4 linked regions of the Homo sapiens genome follow. The protein of the gene in region 2 interacts with the protein of the main gene of each other region in a biochemical or structural test. Each region holds a gene or a part of one and is shown on either strand. Other genes may lie near its edges. The genes, in order: PDGFB, COL6A1, ITGAV and THBS1.

What was found.
Region 1: the proteins of COL6A1 (region 2) and PDGFB form a complex in vitro, tested with the Homo sapiens proteins (one study listed by BioGRID).
Region 3: the proteins of COL6A1 (region 2) and ITGAV form a complex in vitro, tested with the Homo sapiens proteins (one study listed by BioGRID).
Region 4: the proteins of COL6A1 (region 2) and THBS1 form a complex in vitro, tested with the Homo sapiens proteins (one study listed by BioGRID).

Annotation. Positions count from the first base shown.
Region 1 is NC_000022.11:39,235,059-39,242,758, reverse strand, and holds part of PDGFB (platelet-derived growth factor subunit B isoform 1 preproprotein), read left to right. Parts: intron 1-1,631; exon of another isoform or gene 1,632-1,746; intron 1,747-1,849; exon of another isoform or gene 1,850-1,886; coding exon of another isoform or gene 1,887-1,904; intron 1,905-6,884; coding exon 6,885-6,981; intron 6,982-7,700. UniProt on the Homo sapiens protein: Growth factor that plays an essential role in the regulation of embryonic development, cell proliferation, cell migration, survival and chemotaxis. Potent mitogen for cells of mesenchymal origin.
Region 2 is NC_000021.9:45,987,861-45,991,785, reverse strand, and holds part of COL6A1 (collagen alpha-1(VI) chain precursor), read right to left. Parts: intron 2,703-3,925; coding exon 2,649-2,702; intron 2,179-2,648; coding exon 2,134-2,178; intron 2,035-2,133; coding exon 2,008-2,034; intron 1,529-2,007; coding exon 1,502-1,528; intron 1,409-1,501; coding exon 1,364-1,408; intron 1,014-1,363; coding exon 960-1,013; intron 808-959; coding exon 745-807; intron 1-744. UniProt on the Homo sapiens protein: Collagen VI acts as a cell-binding protein.
Region 3 is NC_000002.12:186,594,785-186,602,484, forward strand, and holds part of ITGAV (integrin alpha-V isoform 1 preproprotein), read left to right. Parts: intron 1-5,420; exon of another isoform or gene 5,421-5,550; coding exon of another isoform or gene 5,551-5,597; intron 5,598-7,236; coding exon 7,237-7,367; intron 7,368-7,700.
Region 4 is NC_000015.10:39,587,553-39,594,267, forward strand, and holds part of THBS1 (thrombospondin-1 precursor), read left to right. Parts: intron 1-489; coding exon 490-666; intron 667-973; coding exon 974-1,147; intron 1,148-1,406; coding exon 1,407-1,534; intron 1,535-1,649; coding exon 1,650-1,802; intron 1,803-2,252; coding exon 2,253-2,471; intron 2,472-2,963; coding exon 2,964-3,071; intron 3,072-3,638; coding exon 3,639-3,798; intron 3,799-3,952; coding exon 3,953-4,071; intron 4,072-5,015; coding exon 5,016-5,250; intron 5,251-5,447; coding exon 5,448-5,675; intron 5,676-5,844; coding exon 5,845-6,116; intron 6,117-6,546; coding exon 6,547-6,644; intron 6,645-6,715. UniProt on the Homo sapiens protein: Adhesive glycoprotein that mediates cell-to-cell and cell-to-matrix interactions.

The sequences.
Region 1 (7,700 bases), on a different chromosome or scaffold from region 2:
CAGCCAGGCGCAGGAAGGAGGCAGCGGCGGCGAAGGGGTTAAGGCGGAGGGCTCGGAGGCCGCGGCCCGGCCTTGGGCTGCCGCCAGCGCAGGTTGTTTTGACCACGGAGGAGCCGTCGCCGTCTCCTTTTGTTCTCGGGGCTCCTCGAGGGCCGCAGGCCGCCCGCCCGGGGGCCCCGCCCTTCCGCGGCCGCCCCCCGCGGCCCGCACCCGGGAGGGAGGACGCGGGGCTCGGCCGGGCCGCCTTCAGGCCCCTCCCGACGCCCCCTCTCCGCCTCTCCCGCAGCCCCCCGGGCCGCGGCCAGCTGTTGGGGAGGGGGTGGCCGGCCGGCCCCAGCTGCCGCCTCGCCTCGCCGTGGGACCTGGGGGCTGGGCCCGGTGCCAGGGCGTCCTGGGAACGGCGGCGCCCCGTGGCTGCTCTCCGCAGCCCACCCCGCCCGGGCCCCCGACTCGCTCACTCACCCCACGCATGCACACTCCTGGCCGGAGGCGATGCTGCGCTCCGGCGGGCGGGCGCGCAGAGCGACGGGCACGCACTACCGCGGCCAGGTCGCGCGCCCGCCTCTGCCACGCCCGTGCACACGCGGGACACACGCGCGCGCACCGCACACAAACGCACGCACGGCCCCTGCACGCGCGGCCTGAGCACACGTGCGCGCACACCCACGCACGTACACAGGCACGCACGGGCCCCCGTGCACCCAGCGCCTGGTGCTCGCCCCCGCGCAACAGGTGGGCCCTCCGTGGGCCCTGGCACCTCACCACCTCTGTAGCGGCCCCATTTCCTTCCTGGCGTCCTGTGAGGGAGGGAGAACCTCCCATCAGCACCACAGCACCTACTTTTTTTTTTGCCTCGTCAGCCCGACGCCCCTCAAACCTTACCCATCTGTGACTCCTTTTTTTCAACCACCTCCGCGTGGTGGAAAATGGTGGTGATGTGACTCTGAGGGGCACTGAGCTGTCCAGAGCGATTCCCCCTTCACATAAGCCTTCATTTGAACCTGCAAGACTGGAGGGACCTGGCGTGTGCAACCGCGGAGGGGGCTCCCACCCCTGGCTGTTGCATTCTCTTGGCTGATCCCAGCGTGCCCCGGGGAGGCCGCTGACAGCTGGATGTTTCCCCAGCCTCCCCTTACCATTTCCAGCTTCGTCCAGCACCTCCTCCTTCTTTCCCACAGCTCCACGGGCTCGTGTATCTGGGGTGGAGGCTGTGGCACAGAAACTGCCTTTCTCCTCACTTTAGTCACAGCATTCTTGAACACATGGCCACAGGCGCGATGTATGTGGCACTTTGCAGTTTATGAAGCACTTTGCTGCTAAGCCTGAGTGAGCCTCAGGCTGGCCCTGGGGGAGGGGACCTGCATGGGGATGGAACCACGCAGGGGTCAGTCCAGGAAGGAGCTGTAATGGCCAGTGCTGGGAGAGTCAGGGCAGGCCTGCTGGTGGAGGTGGCCTTGGAGCTGTCCACGTCCTGGTCGTGCTCGGACTAATCTTTCAGCAGACGGCAGGCAGCCGTGAGGCAGGGCTGGGTGGAGGGCCTGCCGAGGCCTCTGAGGTGCCATCTCCACCAGCTGAGCTGGCTTCCAGGAGGGCGAGTCCCACTGTCACGTGACGCGTCTGGCCTCAGCACACTTCTTCCGGGAAAGAGTGAAGGGCCCCACTGCCCTTTGCCATCCAGCTTCCTCTGGCTTTGCTAATGGCCCTAGGGGGCAGGAGACCAACTGCTGGAATCCCAGAGCCCTGGAGGTGTGCAAGGGCAGGTCAAACAGAATTTGGAGGATCTGGTGCAAGAGCCAGGAAGAGAGAGAGAGAGAGAGTGTGTGTGTGTGTGTGTGTGCGCATCTGAGAGAGAGAGAGAGAGAGACTGACTGAGCAGGAATGGTGAGATGTTTATCATGGGCCTCGTAAGTACCTCTCCACGTCTTGTCTTCCCCTCCCCACATTGAGGAGCCTCTTCTGTGACAACTCTTCCTATGTTCTGGTTTATTTCATTGTTTATTACCTGCTTTCTCTACTGGAGTGTCAACCCCATTAGAGAGCTTTCCTCCTGGTCCCCACTTTTAGAACAGTGCCCAGAGCCCTGTGGACAATCAGTAACTATTAGTGCAAAGAACAGTTAGTGCTGGGTTGGTGGGGAGGGCAGGACCTGGCCCCCTGTTGCTCCATGGCCCCACTGAGTCCTCGCTTTGCTCTGCTCCGAGGGCAGCCCCCCTTTTCAGCCCTCTGGTAGGCATCAGTCTTTCAAAGCCCCCCATCTTGAGAGAGAAGCATGTCTGTCTCTCCTCTGTCTTGGGACTTGGGCTACCAGGATTAGACAGGACAGAGGAGAAGAAACAGAAAGAAAATCAGACTGCAAAGGTTCTGTGTATCTTTAGCTGGGGCTAAGTTTCTGCCACCTAAAAAAAAAAAGAGAGAGAGAAGATTGGATTAGTGCAGAGTTCCCAAAGAATGGCAGAATCCCCTGGCCCCGTCCCCTGGCTGGGATGGGGATGGGCAGTGATTGCCGTGGTTGCCAGTATTATAAATGGCTGGACTGGTTCCTCTCTTCCTGCTTTAATTTTCCTCTGCTCCTGCAAGAGGTGGGGAGGCCAGGGTTCTGGGCCCACGTGAAGGAGCAGAGGCTGAGCGGGAGGGTCCCAAGAGCAATAAAGAAGGGGAATGCTAGGTGGGAAACACTGGTTCTAATGGCTTCTGTGGTTTGCCCCGAGAGGGCTTCTTCAAAGGGGTTGGTTGGCTTTGGCATTCGATCTAAATAAGGCCTGCGACTCTCAGGCAGGCAGGCTCTGGGAGGCCTCATCAGCTTCTTCCTCTGCCAGCCACAGACAACGCCCCTGGTTGCTTGGGCCTGTGTGTCCCTTGGTGGGAATGGCAGGCGGGCCGGGGAGTGTGTATCTGTGTGTGTGTGCTGGGCCCAGGAGGAGGGTGGGGTTCAAGCCCCTTTGATCTGCCAGCCTGGTTGGGAGCAGATCACTCACCTGGCCTCACGCTCGCTCGTGCCCTTCCTACCTGCTGCAGCTGGCGCTGGGGGCGGGGTCGGAGGAGGCTGTTTACCTTGGCTCCCACGGCTGGCTTTGCCCCAGCTGCCTCCTCGCCACGCCCTCACTCTGCCAGAAACCCCGGGCCTGAGATCTTGGGACAGCTTCTTCAGGGTGCCAGGCCTCCTTTCCCATCTCTGAAGTGAGCTGTCCACCTGGAGGCCTGCGGAACCTGTGCCCAGGAAAACCAGGCTCCGGGCGGCTCACCTTCCCATACCAAGAAGAGCCTGTGACTCCCAACAGGTGCTCATGCTCGTCATCCCCAGAGCATTGCATCCTGGAGCTGAGCACGTGCTGAGTGTCCCCCCACCCTCACCCACCCCCAGCCCCGGAAGGGCCTTGTAAGCCCACACGGCCCAGGCTCTGCCAGTGTGGAGGTAGGGTACCATTTCCTGTGGCCCAGCACAAGGGATAATGCAAAGTCACGCACTCTTTCATGGGCAGGCAGCTCTCCACCCACTCCTTGTCATCCTCAAAAATGTCCTGTGCTGCTGGCCCTGAGCACGTGTGCCACTCGCTGCTGCCCACAAAGGAGCCATCCGGAAAGAATTAATGATGATGACAGTGACAACTCATTAAGCTCCCATTATCTGCTGGCAGCTCTGCTCTGTGCAATTATGCCTCCCAGTAACCCCGGGCGAGGTATTATTAGCCCCATTTAAAAGATGCAGAAGCCGAGGTTTTAGATTGTGACAAGATTCCAAGAATCCAGGTTGCCCTGGCATCTGGAGCCCTTGCTCTTTCCTCCGCTACAGGGTTTCTCAGCCTCTGCACTCCTGATGTTTGGGAAGGCCGTCCTGTGCCCTGAAGGGTGGTGAGCGGCATCCCCGGCCTCCCCCAACTTAAGATGCAGTGCACACCCCAAGTTGTGGCCACCAGCGATGCCTTCATACATTGCCACTGTCCCCTGGGGGCCCACTGGGCCCTGGTTGAGAGCCTCTGACGTGGGACATGCTGCAGAGTAAAGAGCCAACACGAACCTTGTGTGATGCTGAGGGCCAGTGGCCTTAGAACACAGGAGAGGGAGGCTGAGACGCCCCATGGTGGGCTGGAACAGGTGGGCAGTCTGGAGCCTGGGAACGACCCAGCTCTGCCACTTGCTAATTGTCTGGACCTGTTGCTGCTTGTTTAATTTTTTCTAAGCTTCAGTGTTCTCATCTGGAGGATGGGGATACAAATACTGCCAGCCTCTTAGGATTGGTAGTTTATACGGTGTTTTTCTCAGCGTGTGGCTTGTAGCTGGCATTCATAGATGTTAGTTGTGGTATTATTACCAAATCCGGGGGCTTATGGGTAGTTCTGGGCATCTAGTGGCCACATTACCAAAAGCATCTTCAGGGACGGTCTCCCTGCTCAGATTAAAAGGGACTCTAGTTGCTCATTTGCCTAGGGTTGGGGAAGAATATCCCAGGTGGCCCTCCTGGTGGAGGAGGCAGAAGAATCATACTGGACAGAACCTGGAAAATGGTAGACTCCTTCATGCATTTGACCAGTATTTACCGAGGACCTACTATGTGCCTCTCTCTCCTCCTCAGACCCTATCCTGGGCTCTTTCACACTCAGCCTTGGAGGGGCATCTCCTATGTGTCGTGGGCCTGGATCTGGGGTGTCCACTCGGCCTGTTCAGGGGTCTGCCTCCTCTGCCGTGGCTGGCAGCTGCAGCCGGCTCTCCAGTGGGCAGGGAGATCTTGGCACAAGCACTAAATGCCATTTGCTACTAGGCCTTTGGGCCCCTCCCCTGGGGGGTTAATTGAATCTTTACTCCACAAACGCTTCTTGTTCTCCTTCTGCCAGTGATCCAGGGAGGCCTGGCTAGGCACCCGGCTTTGGCGTTTTCTCTGCCCCTTCTAACGCCTCCTGGCAGAATTAGAATTGAATCGAATGTTCTTCAAGCCCCTCGATTCACAGATGAGAGCCAGGACCATAGGGGCAGTGACCAGCCGAGGTCACACGGCAGTTGGTCCAAAGGCGTGGGATTCAGCTCTCTGGCCTGCCAGTTCTGGGTTTGACAGAACTCTCAGGGGAAGCGGCTTTCGCTGGTGTTCACTGGAGACCAAGCCCTCTGTTCTGTGGGTTGGGTACTTTGTCAACATTTGGAGAGCACCGGAGGCGTGGTCTCTCTTCTGAGGTGGAAAGAATGAACTTGCTTGAGGGCGGGAGGAGGCAGAGCCCGGAGGAGATGGGGCCGAAAGTGAGGGGCAGCGGGGCCCATACCCTCCTCTGTCTTGCACGTGCAGCCCCTGGCTGCCCGGATATTGAAGGAAAGACCCTAGTTCTCAGCCAAGCCCTGCCACCTTTTTTTCCTCAAGTTGCCCAGCAGCCCTTAGACATTGGGCGGAGTTGTAAGCTCCATGTTCAAACAAAGACATGGAGACTCAGGGGTTTCAGGGAATGATGTAGCTTTAAAAGTGGTCACCCCCACCCCCCGCCCTGAGTCTTCTGGCTCCTGGATCGATGTGGGTGGCCAGAGTTGGTCATGGATGAACCCCTGGAGGTGTTGCTAGACCTCATGATAAGCTGGAGGAAACAGAGCTTTCGGGGAGAGCCCCCTGAGGCTGGCCACAGGGCTGAGACGACCTCTTCTCCTCTCCCTCGCTCCCCCTCCGCCGTCAGGCAGCGAGAAAGCAGCATCCCTTTTGTGAAGGTAGCCTGCACCGACCCCCTCTGAGCCCCCCGACCTTCGGCTCCGGGAATGTGGAGCGAACCAAGAAGGGAAGTCCTCCCTTCTTAATCCAGGGAAACTGAGGCAGAAAATAGTTTAACCCAAGGTTCTATAGTAATGTGCCAAGCCTATTGATGCCCTCTCCAGGACTGTCTGTCCAGACCGTGCAGCCCGAGTGCCTGTGCCTGCACGTGTGTGTTTGCACACGTGGAAGTCCGGTTCCAGCCTTTGAACGTGCAGCGACATCTTAGGAATTTTCTTTGCTTCTCAGTGGCTGGTGGTCTGGATTGTGATTCTCAGTCTCCCATCTGCCCTCGCCTCTTTCTTGGGATCTCTGGCATCCGCCCCTTGGGTCTCCTGGGACTGTGGGGGACGTGGCTGTGACCTTCCTACGGGGCTGCTCTTGTGTCATTGTGGGACCTGCGGTTTCCCTGGAGGAAGCCCAGCTCCGAATGAGGCCTGTTGAAGTGTTATCAGGTTTCGAGTATGTTTGGCAACAGGCCAAAGGGGCTCTAAAAATAGGGTTTGGTTGGGCACAGGGCACGGGTAAGCTTTCAGGTTTCCCGGCCGTGTCCGAGGATTCCCTTTTCGCCTCTTTCGAGTGAGAGACTTCATAGATACCGCTAGGACCTGGGGCCTCCTGAGGCCATCGCACTCTGCACGCGTTTATTAAGCACCTCTTGTACCCAGGAGCCTGGGAGTACAGGCTCTGTCATCCCAAAGGCATGGGTTTGAATGCAGCTTTTGCCAATAATTGAGCCTCTCTTTGAACGTTTGTTTTCCCCTCTGTAAAATGGGGGTTAGATTGGCCATGGGAGATGCTGGCTGTCTTCAGCTGTCAGGTGTGTTGTGAGACTCAGGGAGAAATCAGATTTTGGTGCATTCCCAGAACATGTAGTTTGGTGGGGGAGACAGACATAGAGACAAGCAGGTCCAACTCAAAGCAAGCTGGGGTTCCTGTTGGGGGTTGAGGGTGCAGGGACTGAGCTGGGTCTCAGAGGCTTCGGCAGGTCCAGGCCCCGAGGCCTTTGTGCTCCTGATCATCAGGCCTGGATCCTGCCTGTCCGTCTCCCTGTGACCTTGGAGCTTTCCACAGGAGAAAGCGAGAAAGCGTGTGGTGGGGGAGACAGCCATGCTGGAAAGCCCCCACTCCCAGCTCACTCAGCCTTTTGGTGTCTGCCCGGCAGGGGGACCCCATTCCCGAGGAGCTTTATGAGATGCTGAGTGACCACTCGATCCGCTCCTTTGATGATCTCCAACGCCTGCTGCACGGAGACCCCGGAGGTAAATGGAATCCTCGCCCCGCGCTCCGGCCCTCCGAGGAGACTTTAAGAGATCTGGGAGGGGCAGGACAGGAGGCATCCCTCCTTCTTGACGTCTGGAGAACTAGAGGCCCATGGCAGCCCAGAGAGAGCGTGGCCACACCCATCCAGGGCAGGGCCGAGTCAGCAGGCGGGTTGGTACCTGGGACTTGGGGTGTGGCAGGAGAAGCACCCACGTGTGGCTCCGGCTTGGTGCCAAGGGTGGGGTGCCAGGAGGAGGGAGGGCGGGGAGAAGGTGCCCAGGGCATCTGCCGAGTATGTCTCCAGGTGTGGGCCCAGCCAGGGAGGGTGGCACTGGAGGAGTCATCTCCCCGCCCCTCTGGCTAGGGGCCCGGTCTGTGAGGTCCCCTGGGGACACCTGGCCTCGACCAGCAGGCAGCCCTGCCCGTGCCCCAGAGCTCACTCAGCGAATGGGCACGTGCTCGGTGGCACACACGTGGCGGGGCTGGCGGGCTGGATTGACAATGTATTTATAAACGCTGTCTTCAGAGCAAATTCCATTCTATTCTAACCTCTGGCCTGTTCCCTGGAGCCCTGGTCAGCAGCCCCCCTGCACCCCCAGGTCCCCTTCCCTCTGGGGTTCTGTCTCTTTGTCACTTTGTAATCCTTGCCCAGACGCTATCTACGGGGGAACAGCATTTCCTGCCTTTGTTTCCTCTCCCCGTTGGGCCCCTGGCTCCC
Region 2 (3,925 bases):
TTGTCTAAGGGGCAGGATTTGGTTCCCATTAGAGAAGGCACAGCTTTGCCAGGCTGGCAAATTGGCAAACTCAAATCTAGGGCCTGGAGGGTAATCTGGGAACTTGAAGATGAGATTTGGAAACCGTCTGCTGGGTTCTAGGAGCTCGTCTGGGAATGTTTGGGGTGGGGTCAGCATTCGCCTTTGTCTTCCCCAACACTTCAGCTTCAACAAAGAAACTCCAGAGAAAACACCAGCAACGGCAGACTCAGCTGTCAGACGAAAAAGCTCCTTCTCCCGCCTCGTGCTCCCGCCCTCCCGCTGCCCACTCGCCCTCCCACCCGCTCACCACCCTCCTCCCGCCCCCGCTCACCACCCTCCCGCCCACTCGCCACCCTCAGTGCCACCCAGCCCATTCTCAGTTCTGAGAGCCATTCTGGGCTGCGGCTCGCAGGCTAGGAGTGACGCGGTGGGGTCCCATCTGTGCCGAGCGAGCGGCAGGTGCGGGGGACAGAATGGCGGAGGCCTGAAGGCCCTCGGGCTGCAGGGAAGGCTCTGGGCGGGAGCGCCACGGCCACTGTCCCCACGGTGGGCACTGTCCCCGCTGCTCCTCTGCCTGCCTCCAGCCTCCACCAGCTCCTCCCCTCTGAGGCCGCACGGGTGGCCGACATGCTCGGACCAGGACTTGCTTCCAGGAGAGGTTTCCAATTCAGCGCTTGGCCAACCGTGAAGGCCCTGGTCCTCCAGGGGCCGCAAGTCACTCACCTTTTCTCCTTTCAGTCCAAAGGCACCGGGGTCTCCCTTGGGGCCAGGGGGTCCTTGAATGCCCTGGAGAAAAGAGGGCAGCATGACACCACCGGCAGAGGCCACCGCGGCCTCTGGCAGCAGCCCCAGACCGCCCAGACAGAAGTCAAAACGGTCCACACGAGGTGCTGCTGACAGCGCTAGTTTTAAAGTATCAGTGAGAGGAAGTGACTTACGTCAAACCCGGGCGAGCCCTTGCAGCCTGGCAGGCCTGGGTACCCCATCTCCCCCTGGAAAGAGGAAGAAAACTAGAAAATCTGACGGCCAAGTGGGTAAACTGAGGCCAATCAACTGTCAGACTTGGTGCCCTCCATGCCCTCCACACCCTCCCTGGAAAGCCCTGCCTAGCAGACACCCCCCTGGGGTCACCTTCACACCGTCCACCCCACTCCTCCCTGTCCCTCCTGCCGGGATCACCTCACCCCATCCCTCCCCGTCCCTCCCCGTCCTTCCCCTGGTCACCTTCACACTGTCCACCCCATCCCTCCCCGGGTCACCTTCACGCCGTCCACTCCGTCCCTCCCCATCTCGCCCCATTCCTCCTCGTCCCTCCCCGTCCATCCTATCTCCCCCCAGTCACCTTCACGCCGTCCACCCCGTCGATGCCACGCTTGCCCTTCTCTCCCTGTGAGGCGGGAAAACGAAGGCAGGAGTCAGATGCAGGTCAGACATGCTGCCGTGGGGGCAGAACTCCCCCCTCCCAGCAGCCCACGCTCACCTTGTAGCCCTTGGGTCCCCTGGAGCCCTGCGGAGACAGGAAGCGGGTGTGAGGGGGTATTTGGGGTGGGGAGGGCAGGGCAAGCCTGGCTTAGGCCCACGCGAGGCAGGGGCTTGGGTGCCCCCAACCCGAGGGGACAACATCACTGCTGAGAATCATGGGGACTGACAGTGATGGGGAGGGGCCGCTCTGCAGAGGGTAACCGCCCGGGGGACCCCCGGCTCCGCAGAGGGTAACCGCCCGGGGGACCCCCGGCTCCGCAGAGGGTAACCGCCCGGGGGACCCCTGCTCTGGGGTGGGGTGAAAGTGACACAGGCGCCTTTGCTGGGTGCCTGGGTGGCTGTCCTTGTCCTTCCAGATGGAGGGGACGGCGAGGGGCGGTGGAGCGGGTCTGCAGGACACGTGGTCTCCTGTCAGGGACACTGTCCTCATCCCCGGGGACACCCTCGTCCAGGATGGCACATCTGCGCCTGGAGAGACCAGCTCCGAGGTCGAGCCTCACTCACCTTCTCCCCACGGCTCCCTTTTTCTCCCTACACACCCAGCGGAAGAAGAGGAAGAGGAAGGCTTGTTAGTGCTGTGCAAGGCTGAGGGCACCACCGGGCTCGGGCCAGGAAAGGGGGGGCACGTACCTTCATTCCCTGGTACCCAACAGGTCCGAGGTCCCCGGGTCTTCCCTGGAACACAGGAGGAGATGGTGAGACACCCCCGGAGGAGCAGGGGCAGGGGCCAGTCCCACCCAGCCCCACACCCCTCCCTCCAGCCCAGGCCTGGTCAGGCCGAGAGAGGGGCCCTGCTGCACGGGGCCCATGGTGCCGAGGCCCTCCAAGGTGGAGCTGGGGGAGGGAAGTCTATGGATAGGATTTGGGCCAAGGAGCCACGGCAGGGGCCCCGGACGGTGCCGGCCTGAGCACCCTGGGCCACCTCCCCACCCAGCCCCTCCCTGGCAGGGGGGCTTACGGGCTGCCTGGGGGGCTGTGTGGAAGGATGGCTGGGCTGTGGCCCCTCCAGGTCTGCTCCCACCCACAAGGAACAGGCAGTGTGACTTTGGCACTCAGAACCCAGCCACTCTTCCGGAAGTTTCCGAGGCCTAGTCGTTCCCCGCCTCCAGCTTCTTAGGGCCCCCACCCCACAGTCAGGCACTCACAGGATCTCCGGCTTCTCCCTTCTCTCCTGGGAGCCCCGGCTTGCCTCGTTCTCCCTGGAACACAAAACAGGTCAAGGTTGGGGCAGCCCCGTTTCTTTCTAAAAAGCTGGCTCACGAAACAGGTTTTTAAAAAGACGCTTCATCCAGCCTTCAGGGATCAAGGGCTTTAAAGCACCTTCCCCATCACATCTGGTCAGCCTGGGTCTGGGAGCTCCAACCCGCACGCCAGCTCCCCCCACTCCCTGCCTTCGTTCCTGTCTGCTCGGCTTTGCTGACCCCCAGGCACAGGTGGGAGGGACGTGCAGCACAGAAGCCCCCCAGGGTCACAGCTCGACCCCCAGGAAATGGCCATGGGACTCGGGCCCACAGCTGCTGGGTTTGATGGTTTTTAGGAGAAGCCAGAAATCTGAGGTCCATGAGCAGCCTCATGGCAAGTTTTAATTATCAGCAGCTAATTCTAACGTTTAAGGTCATCCTATGTGAGCCACACAGAAGCAGGGGACCCACATTCTCACCCTCCTACCTCCAGAAAGGTCCTTCTGAACAGAGTGCGGCTGAGGGCAGGGCGGACAGAGACACCCTCAGAAGCCCCCAGCGCCCCCGGGACAGTCCACACCCTGCACGGCCGGAGCCTGCCTGCTGGACCCCGCCGTCCCTTCCATCTGGACCCCGACATCCCCTCCATCTGGACCCCGCCGTCCCCTCCATCTGGAGCCCCGACGTCCCCTCCATCTGGACCCCGCCGTCCCCTCCATCTGGACCACGCCGTCCCCTCCATCTGGACTCCCGCCGTCCCCTCCATCTGGACCCCGCCGTCCCCTCCATCTGGACCCCGCCGTCCCCTCCATCTGGACCCCGCCGTCCCCTCCATCTGGACCCCGCCGTCCCCTCCATCTGGACCCCGCCGTCCCCTCCATCTGGACCCCCGCCGTCCCCTCCATCTGGAGCCCCGACGTCCCCTCCATCTGGACCCCGCCGTCCCCTCCATCTGGACCACGCCGTCCCCTCCATCTGGACTCCCGCCGTCCCCTCCATCTGGAGCCCCGACGTCCCCTCCATCTGGACCCCGCCGTCCCCTCCATCTGGACCCCGCCGTCCCCTCCATCTGGACCCCGCCGTCCCCTCCATCTGGACTCCCGCCGTCCCCTCCATCTGGAGCCCCGACGTCCCCTCCATCTGGACCCCGCCGTCCCCTCCATCTGGACCCCGCCGTCCCCTCCATCTGGACCCCGCCATCCCCTCCATCTGGACCCCGCCGTCCCCTCCATCTGGACCCC
Region 3 (7,700 bases), on a different chromosome or scaffold from region 2:
TACAAAATGATGCCAGCTCATTTTTTATAAACTTCAGAGTAGCTCTGATTATATTGGCTGATTTTTCTCATCATAAATAATATACATGTATATTAGGGGACATAAAACTAGGCTATAATTTTGTTATTTAGAAAGCAAATCCTATATTACTTCTGATTAAGGACATATGATGTTTCATAGAGCATTATGAAAGACAAGGGAAAATATGTGGAAATTGTAGTTACTGCTTCTGTTTTACAGTAGTTGTTGACTGGCATTTTTGTTTTTCTTTTGATTCAAAAAAGCATTTTTTAAAAAATGAAAAGTAAATCTGAAACTGGAATTGTAGCTTTGAAATAACATTCAGTACTATTTCATACACATTTATTTCTATATACATGTATGATAGTTTTTCAGAAGTTCCTTTTGGTGAAGGCTCATTGGTCAACTCAGAGTCAGCTAAATATATTAAACATGCTTTATCTTAGAAAGGTCAGTGCTGAAAGCAGACAAACAAGTTAGTTTATTTGGAGGGTTTGAAAAATGGACTTGTCATTGTTTGGCAGGTTGCCCCTCCTTGGTTGTCAAGGTCACATTCCGTGAATCAACTGCCCTTCAAGTACAGTTTGGATAGGGAGTGCATCCAAAGGCCATCCTCCTGATTGGTTCCTCTGAGCCTCTTGTCTGTCTCCCTCTCACTGCCTCCTCTGATACCTCTCCCTCTGTATCGCTCTCTCTTTTTTCTTTTTCTGTCTCTTGTCCTTCCTCTCTTTTTCCTTTCCTCTATCTCTTTTCTTCCTTTCCATCCATCTTTCTGTCCTCTCTCCCAAACTCAATCCTTTATATTTTAGCACTTCTTGGCATGGATGTAAACCTTAATTTTGAAGTCCCAGAGAGTTATTTAATGGCAGTGTTTCCAGTCATTAAAAAAAAAAATGTTGAGGATGGGGATTCTGATGATGTTCTTGGACATACTTTTTGGAGGGAAATGGAGTCTATCAGGAGAGAGTTGCGGGCATAGGAAATTAAGTCACTCAGCTTCAGATTTACACTGCTAATCAGTGAAAACTCTTGTCAACCTTACCTCACCCTGTGTATTCTCCCCACCTCGCCACCATTGATAAGAAATGTTTAAGCTGGCTTTTCTACCCTTCTTTCTCTTTTTCTTCTTCATTTGAGTTAATCACTTGACCATTAATGGCCCTTTGAAAACACTGAGGAAAGAAAAGCCCTTTTAAAGACAGAATTTAAGTTTTACATTTTCTACTCTTCTAGGGAATAACTTATTAATGGCATCAATTGTTTTCAGGACGAAGATGATAATTAAATCCCATCATCTTGTATTTTCGTGGTGTTTCAGATTTTCTAAGTTTGCATTTATTTATTATCACCTTCAGAAAGTTTCTTTTTAAAGTAATTACAGTGGGCATTGTTATTGCCATTCGATAGAAGGGAACAGAGATTCAAAGTTACTGCTTCAATTGATTTGCAGTGTTTGTAAATTTTAATTCCAAACTGTTTCCATTAGATAGTGCTGCTTAGATCACAAACATTTTTTTTCTGGTCTGTCAGTTCTCTTACCCTAATTAAGCTGTTGTACACTTTCATTAGTCATTCTTAGATGAAATTCAAGTAACAATTATTTTTATGGAGTGTTTTATTAACTTTGTTTTTTGTAGTATGTGTTGCTTTTTTTTTTTTTTTGAGATGGAGTCTTGCTCTGTTGCCCAGGCTAGAGTGCAGTGGCACAATCTTGGCTTGCTGCAACCTTCGCCTCCTGGATTCAAGCAATTTCTGGCTAACTTTTGTATTTTTAGTAGAGATGGGGTTTCACCATGTTGGCCAGGCTGGTTTTGAACCCCTGACCTTAAGTGATCCTCCTGCCTTGGCCTCCCAAAGTGCTAGGATTACAGGCATGAGCCACCGTGCCTGGCCTGTGTTGCTTTTTATTCCTTAATTTTTTTATATAGCATCTTTTATCACCTTGTACCCAGTTTTCTATGCAAGTATTTCTTTTTCACTACACAGCTTCCTCGTAAGACTTTAACATATGTCTAAGGTCATTTTACTTTCTCTATCTCTTCATTGTTCTCTTTAAAAAACTTAAATATCTTAATGATAACTTTAATATCGAGATGGCATTTTGGATGAAAAACTTCATCAGCTTTTTTCCCTCACAAATTTAGCATGTAGATATTGACACATTCCTTTTATATTATTCTGCCATTTCTGTAGCATTTCACCAGTATGCAAGTCTGCACATGAAGGTATGCTTAGGAAAACTTAATGAACATCCATTTGTACACCTGATTACCATCATTTCATGCCTATAATGTGCAGATAGCCTGATGAAAAGCAACAGGCTTGTTCCTGGTATTATTCAAGGAACTCATGCTATGTGCTGCCAATAGAGTGGTGTTTTCATTCAGAGAATGCTCCTACTGGGCTCTTTTTCTCTGTCTTTGTTGAAGGCCTTCTCCTAATAACTTCCGAGCTCTCTCTGTCTTATAGTGCCAAGTAAAGAAAGTATCTGAAACCCAAAATTAAGTAGAGATGTTACACAAGGAAATTGTTTTAAGGGTAATTTAAATAATTGGATGTTTAATAGAGGATGCTTTCTGCATTCTTGAGGGGTTCAGACGTAGTGGAAATGACTTATTTATATATGGCTACTTTAAGATTGAGACATAGCTATTGAATTTACTTTGTTACTCCACTGTCCATTTAAACTTTTCTTGAGTTCTTATAATGTGGCAGGTGCAAAAGATGAATTAGAGTACCCTACATTCAAAGAAGCAATTTATCATAAGGTAGGCAGAATAGTTTTGACCAAAAAGTTATAAAATATATTGTAAGACAGGGGTCCCCAACCCTCGGGCCATGGACCAGTACCAGTCCATAGCCTGTTAGGGACCATGCTGCACATCAGGAAGTGAGCAGCAGGAGAGTGAGCATTACCACCTGAGCTCTGCCTCCTGTCAGATCAGTGGTGGCATTAGATTCTCATAGGAGCAAACCCTATTGTGTGAACCCTGCTGTGAAGTGTGCATGCAAGGGATCTAGGTTACATGCTTCTTATGAGAACCTAATACCTGGTGATCCGAGTTGGACAGTTTCATCCCGAAAGCATCCCCCTCTATGTCCAGGGAAGGAAAGGTTGGGGACCACTGCTGTGAGCTACTATTTGAAGACAACCCAGAAGTGATTTTTGCTTGTAGGTTTCCAGGCAAAGCTTGAGAACCAGTTCTCCTATCCTGATGTAGAACCTGGTATGATCTACAACACTAAGAACGTGTACATACCTGTGCTTGTATTACTCTCATTAGGACTACTGTGGCAATGTCCCAAGCAAGCACTATTCAAGATATTGACCCTCAAAAGCAAACTTACCTGAACTGTTCTTTTGTTCTAGTATGCACTCAAAAATCATTTAATTCTGATGAAAAGGGGTAGTTGTGTGATTTTGGGGTCAAATTTTAGACCCGTAGAAAAAAAATTGTATATGTAATAAATTTACATATTATAATTTATACACACACACACACACACACACACACACACACACAGAGTTTCACTGTGTTAACCAACTCTGCTCTAGAAAAAGAACCGATGGGGTTTTGATGACGAGCTGCTCTCTTAGTTATGGGAGGTGGGGACTCTCTTACTCATAGCATTTTTTTTTTTTTTTTTTTGAGACAGAGTTTTCCTCTGTTGCCCAGGCTGGACTGCAGTGGCGCAATCTTGGCTCACTGCAATCTCCACCTCCCAGGTTCAAGTGATTCTCCTGCCTCAGCCTCCCGAGTAGCTGGGATTACAGGCTCATGCCACCACGCCTGGCTAATTTTTATATTTTTAGTAGAGATGGGGTTTTGCCATGTTGGTCTCAAACTCCTGACCTCAAGTGATCTGTCTGCCTCAGCCGCCCAAAGTGTTGGGATTGCAGGCATGAGCCACTGTGCCCAACCTCTTTTTTTCTTATGAAAGACTTTTGCTGAATGAAAACTAAGTTCATTTTCTACCCAGAATCATTTTGCCGTGATGGGAGAGAGCCAACATTGGTGTTTTACTGATGCCAGATATGACTGCATGGAGCTCTATTAAATAGGGCGTGGTTTGGTTGGGAGTTACGTCTTTATTTTGAATTTGTGGATTTTTAAGATAAGTGTCAGAAAGCAGGATTCTTTGTAACCCTGCAATTCGTACAGCCAGCTTTTGTCTACTGTAGATGAGATTTGGCAGCTACTACCCAGAATAAGAAATTGATTTTAAAAGTTCAAGTGAATGCATTCCATATTTAAGATGTACATTCGTTCTAATTTCACAAAAAGGTGAAAAGCAATTGTAAATGTTTCCTTTGCCAGAATAATTTAAGTGACTTAGTATTTAATGAAACAAAATGATTATGGTGATAGCATTTTAGGACTGTTTTTGTCTGCCTGTATCCTGCTTTATTTCCTCCTATATTTCAATCAGTTTCTTGAGATTAAAGACAAAAATCTTTTTTACTTTATCTTCTTTCTCTTCTTGACTCCTAAATGTTGTTGTCCCTGAGAACTCACTCATTGCCCCTCCTCTTTCGACGCTTCCCCTGGCTGAATAACCCCAACTGTGTTCTGATACAGCATACTGTCTCAGGCAGGGCTTCAGACTACAACTGGATGACTCACAGATATCTCAAACAAACATATTAATAATTGAATTCATGGTTTTTCTGTAAATACTAATTTTATTTTATTTCTTGAGACAGGGACTCATTGTTTCACCCAGGCTGTTTGCTTACTTTGTAGCACTTGTAATCACAGCTCACTGCAGCCTCAACCTCCTGGGCTCAAGCCATCCTCCTGTCTCAGGACCCCAGCTCCACCCCCAAAGTTGGGACCACAGGCGCATGCCACCACACCCAGTGAATTGTTTTATTCTTTGTAGAGATGGGGGTCTTACTATGTTGCCTAGGCTAGTCTTGAACTCCTGTAAGTACTTAATCTGCCTTCTGCTTCTCTGCTCTCTAGGCTTTTCTCCCATCAATGCACTCAAGAAGGAAATCTAGGTGGCATTCTTGAATGTCTTTTCTCTCATATTCAGGCCTCCAGCGATTGCTGTTGTACTCCAGATGTTTTTTTCCATCTGTCACCTATCTTTCCACCCACCCTCTTACTGCAGATCACACTCACCTGCTCCCTGAGCTGCGGCCAGTCCTTTGCTTTCCTTGTTCCATTTTTTTCTCCCTCTCCCTTAATGCTTTCCCCATAGGGCATAACATTTAGTTTTCTTTAGTAGATGATTTCATTCTTCTTAAAAAACTCAGTGGCTTCAAATGAACCTTGGGATAAAATACAAAGTTTAACCATGGCCAAAAGGCCCTATTTGACTTAGTTATTGCCAGGCTCCTTGACCTTATCTTGTGCCACTCCCGGCTTGTCCCCTCCTTCAGCCATACCTTTCTTTGTAGCTCCTGGAGATTCAATTCTTTCTTGCCAGGGTCTTTCTACCTCTGCCTCACATATTCCCTCCATCTCTTCATTCCACTTCCCTCATCCCCACCCCCCACTCCCCTCCATCCTCAATACACAAATGCTCCTAGGCACCCTCCTTCTGATCCTGTACATCTTAATGTTGTGGTGAGTTCCTTAGAAATAACTTCTCTGTCTACTTTATCTAAAAGAGAACTTTCTTCCCCATTCTTTAAAGATGATTTCCTTAGAGAGACTTTCCTTTACCTAGAGGAAATCTTTCCCCTCTCATCCTTAGAGATAACTGCTCTGTCTAAAGAAGGTCTCCTCTCCCTATTCCCAAAAATCTCTCTCAGCTAATTGTTTGCTTACTTGGTAGGACTTGTAATAGTAATTTATTTATTGGCTAGTTTCTTGCCTCTAAGGGAATGTAAGCTAAATTCCTCCATTAAGAGCAGGAATCAGCCAAGCACAGTGGCTCACGCCTGTAATCCCAGCACTTTGGGAGGCCAAGGCAGGCAGATCACCTGAGGTCAGGAGTTAGAGACCAGCCTGACCAATATGGTGAAACCCTGTCTCTACTAAAAATATAAAAATTAGCCAGGCGTGGTGGTGGGCGGCTGTAATCACAGTTACTCAGGAGACTGAGGCAGGAGAATCGCTTGAACTGGGGAGGTGGAGGATACAGTGAGCCAAGATCATGCCATTGCATTCTAGCCTGGGTGGCAAGAGCAAGACTCTGTCTCAAAAAAAAAAAAAAAGGCAGAAACCAAGGTTGTTTTAGTCATCTGGTATCTCTAGCACTTAGGACCTTGCTTTATGTAGAGGAAGCACTCACTTCATATCTTTTATGAATGAATAGAAAACAACAAAAGAAAACATCTCTTTAAAATTAAAAATTTTACTCCTGATTATTGTGTCTTTGGTTTATTTTACCTTAATGACAAAGAAATTGAATAGTGGTCCTAATCTTTGACCAAGAATTGATTAGATTAATCTTGTGATAAGAAATTTTTTATTAAATAGTCAACTATTAAAAAAAATTAAGCCTAGGCAATGTGGCGAGACCCCACCCCTACAGAAAATTTAAAAAAAAAATTAGCTTAGCATGGTGGCATATGCCTGTAGTTCTACCTGCTCAGGAGGCTGAGGTAGGAGGATCGCTTGAGCCAGGAGTTGGAGGTTGCAGTGAGTTATGATTGTACCACTGCACTCCAGCCTGGGTGACAAAGCAAAACTGTGTCTCTTAAAAAAAAAAAATAGAATAAAATAAAAATTACAGCAATATTTCTAATGCAAGATAATTTTTCTAAATGGGAAAATCATATTTATAATTATACTTTGGAATAATTTACTTAGAATATTTTTTTTTTTGCTCAACATTCAGAATATAGAAAATGCATAGTAATTCTCTCACACACGCACATGCACACACACACACACCAGAACACCAAAACAAAACTTTCCTGCCTCTAGGCAGCATACATTTTTAAGAGCTTTACTGAGATATGTGACATACAATAAACTGTACATATTTAAAGTGTATGATTGACCTGCATAAATTCCTAAATGAATGTAACCCTGAACTTGCCTTATAAAGTTATCAGGAAAAATAAACTATATCAAATAATGTATGCATGCAAGAGACTACCAAATGAATAATGAAGATTATGCCCTCAGTGAATAGCAAATGGTTTTAAAAAATATTTATAGATAATATCAAGAGAATGATTGCTCCTCATAAATCAGAAGATATTGCTTACACTTTGTTTCATTTAAACTTTGGTCTGCCGCTTTTGTATTTTAGCCGGATGTTTCTTCTCGTGGGAGCTCCCAAAGCAAACACCACCCAGCCTGGGATTGTGGAAGGAGGGCAGGTCCTCAAATGTGACTGGTCTTCTACCCGCCGGTGCCAGCCAATTGAATTTGATGCAACAGGTAAATTTTGATGCACAATTTTCTTTTCATTGATTTCATTTGATTTTTTTTTTGCAATTGGTTTAGTTTAAATGTAGCCATTTAATACAATTATATAGATAAGCACCTCAGCTTCACAGGGAAAATTATATAAAGACAAACGATTTATTATATGATTTTTTCCTACAATTTTTGTGGTAGATGAAAGTATTAAAAGTACGTTGTGTTTCCATTGGTTCAGATGTCTTCTGCCGTAAACTGATAATATCAACCCACAGAAATTTGGGGTAAACCTGTTAGGATGTTTTTGTACCTTTTCTGAGAATAGGGAGCTCATAGGCACAGAAAGGCATT
Region 4 (6,715 bases), on a different chromosome or scaffold from region 2:
ACTGACCTGTCCTTGTTGTCGTCACCAAGGGCAGCTCCACAGCATGTATATTAAGAACACGGGTTCTAGGATCTCTGGATCCCAATCCCACTGCTTAGCTGTGCACCCTTGAACACAACTTACCCTCTCTGAGGCTCTTTCCTCATTTGCAACTTGGAGATAATAATAGTTCTTGATAAGTTTATCTTGAGCATTTTATTTAGATACTGCATGTAAAGCAGTTAGCACTGAGTTTTGGTTTATGGTAAGCACCCTGTAAATGTTAGGATATTAACAGCAACCCATAAAAACAGCGAACTTATCCGTTCTCTGGTAGAAAACATTCCATGTTGACATTTGGGCATGTGGCCAGGAGCCAATTTCTACCGTACACTGGGTTTAGTTGCCATTGACCATTTCCTGGAAATACTTCTGCGTGCTCCTGATGGGAGCCTCTATTTGGCTGTCTCTAAGCCAAAACCATTTGTGACCATCAACTCTGTACTTTAGTTAAACAGGATGGTGGCTGGAGCCACTGGTCCCCGTGGTCATCTTGTTCTGTGACATGTGGTGATGGTGTGATCACAAGGATCCGGCTCTGCAACTCTCCCAGCCCCCAGATGAACGGGAAACCCTGTGAAGGCGAAGCGCGGGAGACCAAAGCCTGCAAGAAAGACGCCTGCCCCAGTAAGTGTGAGGTCCGCTGCAAGGGTGAGCATGGGCAGCAGCTCTGCCCAGCTGGTTGCCTGGCATCTGCAGCCTGCAGTTCAGTGGGTCATAGAGCAGGAAGGTTACCTACTAGAGAAACAAACAGAAGCAAAGTCCTGCAGGCTCAGCAACTTCTTTTAATGAAAAACAAACTCACCCTCTTCCCCAGCATTCTTTCCATGTGTCAGAGAAGCAGAGGTTTCTTGAACGGGCTTAGGAGAGTCTATGACAAGGGAGGGATTTGAAAGTTGATCTTAATTGTTGCCTGTGGTTCATCTTCTTACAGTCAATGGAGGCTGGGGTCCTTGGTCACCATGGGACATCTGTTCTGTCACCTGTGGAGGAGGGGTACAGAAACGTAGTCGTCTCTGCAACAACCCCACACCCCAGTTTGGAGGCAAGGACTGCGTTGGTGATGTAACAGAAAACCAGATCTGCAACAAGCAGGACTGTCCAATTGGTGAGCCACGCAGCCCAGGATGAAACGACCCAGGAGCTTTGCTCTTTTACTGAATGCTGCAGTCAGCATTCGAGGAGATTCCAGCTTGGTTAGTCCTGAGCGATTTGATTGCTCTAAGATGCAGGTGGACAACATAATCCCAACAAGTTATCGGTTCCCTATACCCTATAATATCTTACACTGTGTTAAGTGCCCAGCATGGCAGTATGGCAGCTTAGACCAACCATTTACTGTGACTGTCTCTCTCTCCTTGTCTCAGATGGATGCCTGTCCAATCCCTGCTTTGCCGGCGTGAAGTGTACTAGCTACCCTGATGGCAGCTGGAAATGTGGTGCTTGTCCCCCTGGTTACAGTGGAAATGGCATCCAGTGCACAGATGTTGATGAGGTGAGGAACTGATGGGGCTCCGAGTTTCTGGATCTAGGAAAGCAGCTAACCTGTGCAGTCGCTTCCTTATGGCAGTGACTTCTAAACATGATGCACGCTCTTATTTCCTCCATAGTGCAAAGAAGTGCCTGATGCCTGCTTCAACCACAATGGAGAGCACCGGTGTGAGAACACGGACCCCGGCTACAACTGCCTGCCCTGCCCCCCACGCTTCACCGGCTCACAGCCCTTCGGCCAGGGTGTCGAACATGCCACGGCCAACAAACAGGTACAGTCAACTAGACGAGTAAACCAGAGGACAGGAGAGCTGTCCTTGACCAAAATAACTGGGAGCGGGAGGAATGTAATTTCATACCCTTCACCAAAAAAAAAAGGGCGAGGAGATGAATGTACGGTCTAGTTTTAGAAACGTGATTAGAAAATCCATGGTAAATCCTGCAGGGGAAAAACAGTCTTCCATATTTAAAAATGCTGCTCTGGAATAAGTTGTGAGCAGATGGACTTGTAAACGCCTAGGTGCTGAGCAAATTCAAGAAAAATAAACATAAAGCAAAGTTTGCTTATAGCCTCAGGGAGAATGGGGAGGGACAGAGGTAACCCACACTCTTCCAAATGGAGCCTCTGTCTACTCAGAGATGACAGGGATCTGGATTCTTGTTTCCATGATATCTGAGGATTCTCAAAAGCTCTGTGTAACAGCAGCATGGTGTACCCTCAGGTGTGCAAGCCCCGTAACCCCTGCACGGATGGGACCCACGACTGCAACAAGAACGCCAAGTGCAACTACCTGGGCCACTATAGCGACCCCATGTACCGCTGCGAGTGCAAGCCTGGCTACGCTGGCAATGGCATCATCTGCGGGGAGGACACAGACCTGGATGGCTGGCCCAATGAGAACCTGGTGTGCGTGGCCAATGCGACTTACCACTGCAAAAAGGTAGAGCCAGGTCCTTTGTGTGCCTCCAGAAAGAGGGCCCATCACCTTATCAAAACACAGGCTAAGGAATTTTAAATACTTAAAGTTTGGACATGAAACTGAAAGATTAAATCTCCCAAAGGGAGAGGGGCACTAATTCCTATTAAAATTAAATCACTTGGTGCCAAAAACATGAACAGGGCTAGCTCTTTTTGGGCAACTGTGTTCCATAGTCAACTCTTCTGTCCAAAAAAAAGTTCAGTACTCTATCCAAATACCAGCAAAGCATGACTTGTGTTCACAACATCTATAAAGCCTAGAGCATTTACACAAATTCTGTATGTATATCCCCCAAGAAAAGTTTTATTTTCTTGTCTTCCCATAAAAAAAATATGCTGTTACTGAGCCAAATTCTGTTCTTTTTCTATTTGGAATTCCAGGTACACTCCCTCGTGCATGAGCTCAGCATGAGGAAGGCAACTGAAGCAGTGATATATATCTTCTCTTTCCTAGGATAATTGCCCCAACCTTCCCAACTCAGGGCAGGAAGACTATGACAAGGATGGAATTGGTGATGCCTGTGATGATGACGATGACAATGATAAAATTCCAGATGACAGGGTAAAAACAGTTTTCTATCCCTTTTTCATCTTTTCAGTTCAGCAACAGCCTGAAACACTTTGGGATTCAAGGAAATTACATGGCTATAGCAAAAAATATACCAAATCAATACACAGGATAATTAGAAATTATTCATTGTGTTCCAGTAGTTTAAGGATGTAGATGTTGCCAAGAGAATTTTTAAATGAGGGTTTTGTTTTTCATCAGAACTGTTTTTCTCTGTACTTGAGAAATTATAATGCATAAACAAATGCCACTTTGTTCCCTAGATTCATTTCAAATGTCACATCGAAATTACAGTAAAATTGACTTTGGGCACACTATGAACTGAGATGATGGGATTATATTCTACATCTCACTAACTTCTAACCCACAGGGATCCATTTTTTTAACTATGTCCTTTTAACTTTTGTAGTGATCGTTTTACACTGAGTGATCAATTAGCCTATCCACTAGGTAGAAAGTATTGCTGATTTTCACAGTTTTAGACATATTATGCACATGGTTTGAGGCTTGAGCTGTTTTCAAGGACAACATTGTTAAGTGCTCCATTTCTTCTCTTTGCAGGACAACTGTCCATTCCATTACAACCCAGCTCAGTATGACTATGACAGAGATGATGTGGGAGACCGCTGTGACAACTGTCCCTACAACCACAACCCAGATCAGGCAGACACAGACAACAATGGGGAAGGAGACGCCTGTGCTGCAGACATTGATGGAGACGGTAAGGTGCTGCCTGATCAGAGGGCCCGCGGGAGACAGGGACATGCACAGCTTTCCAAACGTACTTCTGTCTAGTCCTGGCTATTAGTATGCACTTTGGTGGAAACATCCAAGGCTGGAGAGCCCAGCTCTTATTTGTCCCTTGTTCTCTTCAGGTATCCTCAATGAACGGGACAACTGCCAGTACGTCTACAATGTGGACCAGAGAGACACTGATATGGATGGGGTTGGAGATCAGTGTGACAATTGCCCCTTGGAACACAATCCGGATCAGGTAGGTGGATGGACTCCTTTCAGAGTCTTTCAGTAAACTGTTGGAATATCCCTTTCATGGCCTTTGAAAAATGAGCTTAACAAAGTTCAAACACTTTCATTACTGTGGCTCCCTGGCTTCTCATAGCCAACTGGAATACGTTCATGTAAATAATTTGCCTGATGTGAGCTCCTTGCACAGAGTCTCACAGATCTTTAGCATGAAGATCTGGTAACTTCAGTCTTACCTTCTGTAAGAAGGGCTACTGGACTTGCTCAGCATCGTCTACCATTGTTAAGACAAATTATACAAAGCAGACATCTGTGACTGACAACTGTACAATAATATTAATCATATGTAATACTAAGAGATGGAAAAATAAATGTGCATAAGCAAAATAACCATTTTCATGGCTAATGATGTAATCTAGCTATAAGAAAATCATCAAACTAAGGATACATCCAAAACCAAAGTAATTTATCCCTGTCATAAACATTACCCAGACAGTATACAACACAGGGACCAGTGGTCTGTTTCCATCTTTTCAGGACTTTTCAGAGAAGTCGACGTGTCAACAGTTTTACAACTGAAACCTTCTAAGGAAATTCTCTGTTATAAAGTATCCAGAAAATTTCATTTAACATTAAGATGTAAACAGTTAACATTTCATTTCATCTTTAGTAATTAAATATCACTCTATTTGACCTTATTTAGAAAGTTTTATATGTAAAACATTTTTAAATTATCCCTTCTCAGATTTTTATACGAAAACAAAGATAAAGGAAAAAAACTTTTAAAATGTAATTGCTACTATTGCTATCTTTCTGCAGGAGTGTGTAAATAGACATGACACCCCACTGGCTGTATCAAACAATGGAGAATTTTCCCTGTGGTGGGGGCATAAGTTATCTTTAACATGAATGGTTTATACTGCAATTTACCCTCCATTTACATCTCTCTTTCAGCTGGACTCTGACTCAGACCGCATTGGAGATACCTGTGACAACAATCAGGATATTGATGAAGATGGCCACCAGAACAATCTGGACAACTGTCCCTATGTGCCCAATGCCAACCAGGCTGACCATGACAAAGATGGCAAGGGAGATGCCTGTGACCACGATGATGACAACGATGGCATTCCTGATGACAAGGACAACTGCAGACTCGTGCCCAATCCCGACCAGAAGGACTCTGACGGTGAGTCATGGGAGCCACTTTCTAAGACAGGGACTGCTGGCACAGCTGTGTAGATTGAAGAAATGAAACCAAGGCTCAAAGCATTTGACAGGATGAAGGGACCAAATGCCAACTTAGACAAGATAGTGACATTTCTGACACCAGTAATAATAATAGCACTTTAGAATTTTGCTGAACTCTTGCTTTTTTGACCTCAGGCGATGGTCGAGGTGATGCCTGCAAAGATGATTTTGACCATGACAGTGTGCCAGACATCGATGACATCTGTCCTGAGAATGTTGACATCAGTGAGACCGATTTCCGCCGATTCCAGATGATTCCTCTGGACCCCAAAGGGACATCCCAAAATGACCCTAACTGGGTTGTACGCCATCAGGGTAAAGAACTCGTCCAGACTGTCAACTGTGATCCTGGACTCGCTGTAGGTGAGTAGCGAGTTCTTAGATCCTAAGAGACTGATGCATACATGGGGAAAAACAAATATAAAACCTGGCAGTTGTACCTATCCCTGTGGGTGCTGAGGATGTCTAGGAACATGATGGAGAACCTTCTGAAGGCTGCAGGTTTTAACCTGGCTCTGGGCTCTTCTTCCAGGTTATGATGAGTTTAATGCTGTGGACTTCAGTGGCACCTTCTTCATCAACACCGAAAGGGACGATGACTATGCTGGATTTGTCTTTGGCTACCAGTCCAGCAGCCGCTTTTATGTTGTGATGTGGAAGCAAGTCACCCAGTCCTACTGGGACACCAACCCCACGAGGGCTCAGGGATACTCGGGCCTTTCTGTGAAAGTTGTAAACTCCACCACAGGGCCTGGCGAGCACCTGCGGAACGCCCTGTGGCACACAGGAAACACCCCTGGCCAGGTAAGAAGCAAAGCCCTGGAACAGAGAGAGAGCTTATGGGTGCCTGACTAGCACTGGGGATGCTGTGCTTTGACCAAGACTCTGACCAGGGAGTCTTAGAAAGTTCCCAGCATCACCAGCTGCAGCATTGAACTCTGCTTTGTAAAAACATAATAGTGTTGAAAAGGGAGCTTGACCAAGAATTGCCCTGCAAATCCTAAGGTGCCTTCAGCCTTTTCAAACAAAAAAACCTCCTTCCCTCCTCTCTGTCTGCTTTATATGTGTGCTCAGTGGCACACAACAAATATGAGAGGACTTGGAAAAATTCCCCATTGCAGCCCTCTAACTTAGATCAGCTCAGTACCTTTCAAGCATTGTTTCTGATGGAATGAAATAGAAATCTTTACCTGAAGGAGCTGTGTTTCAACCTTTCCTTTTCCTTTTCCTTCAGGTGCGCACCCTGTGGCATGACCCTCGTCACATAGGCTGGAAAGATTTCACCGCCTACAGATGGCGTCTCAGCCACAGGCCAAAGACGGGTTTCATTAGGTACGATCATACTGATTCACTTTCACTTACAGTCACACTGAGGGACAAAAAGACAAAAAGTATTAAATAGC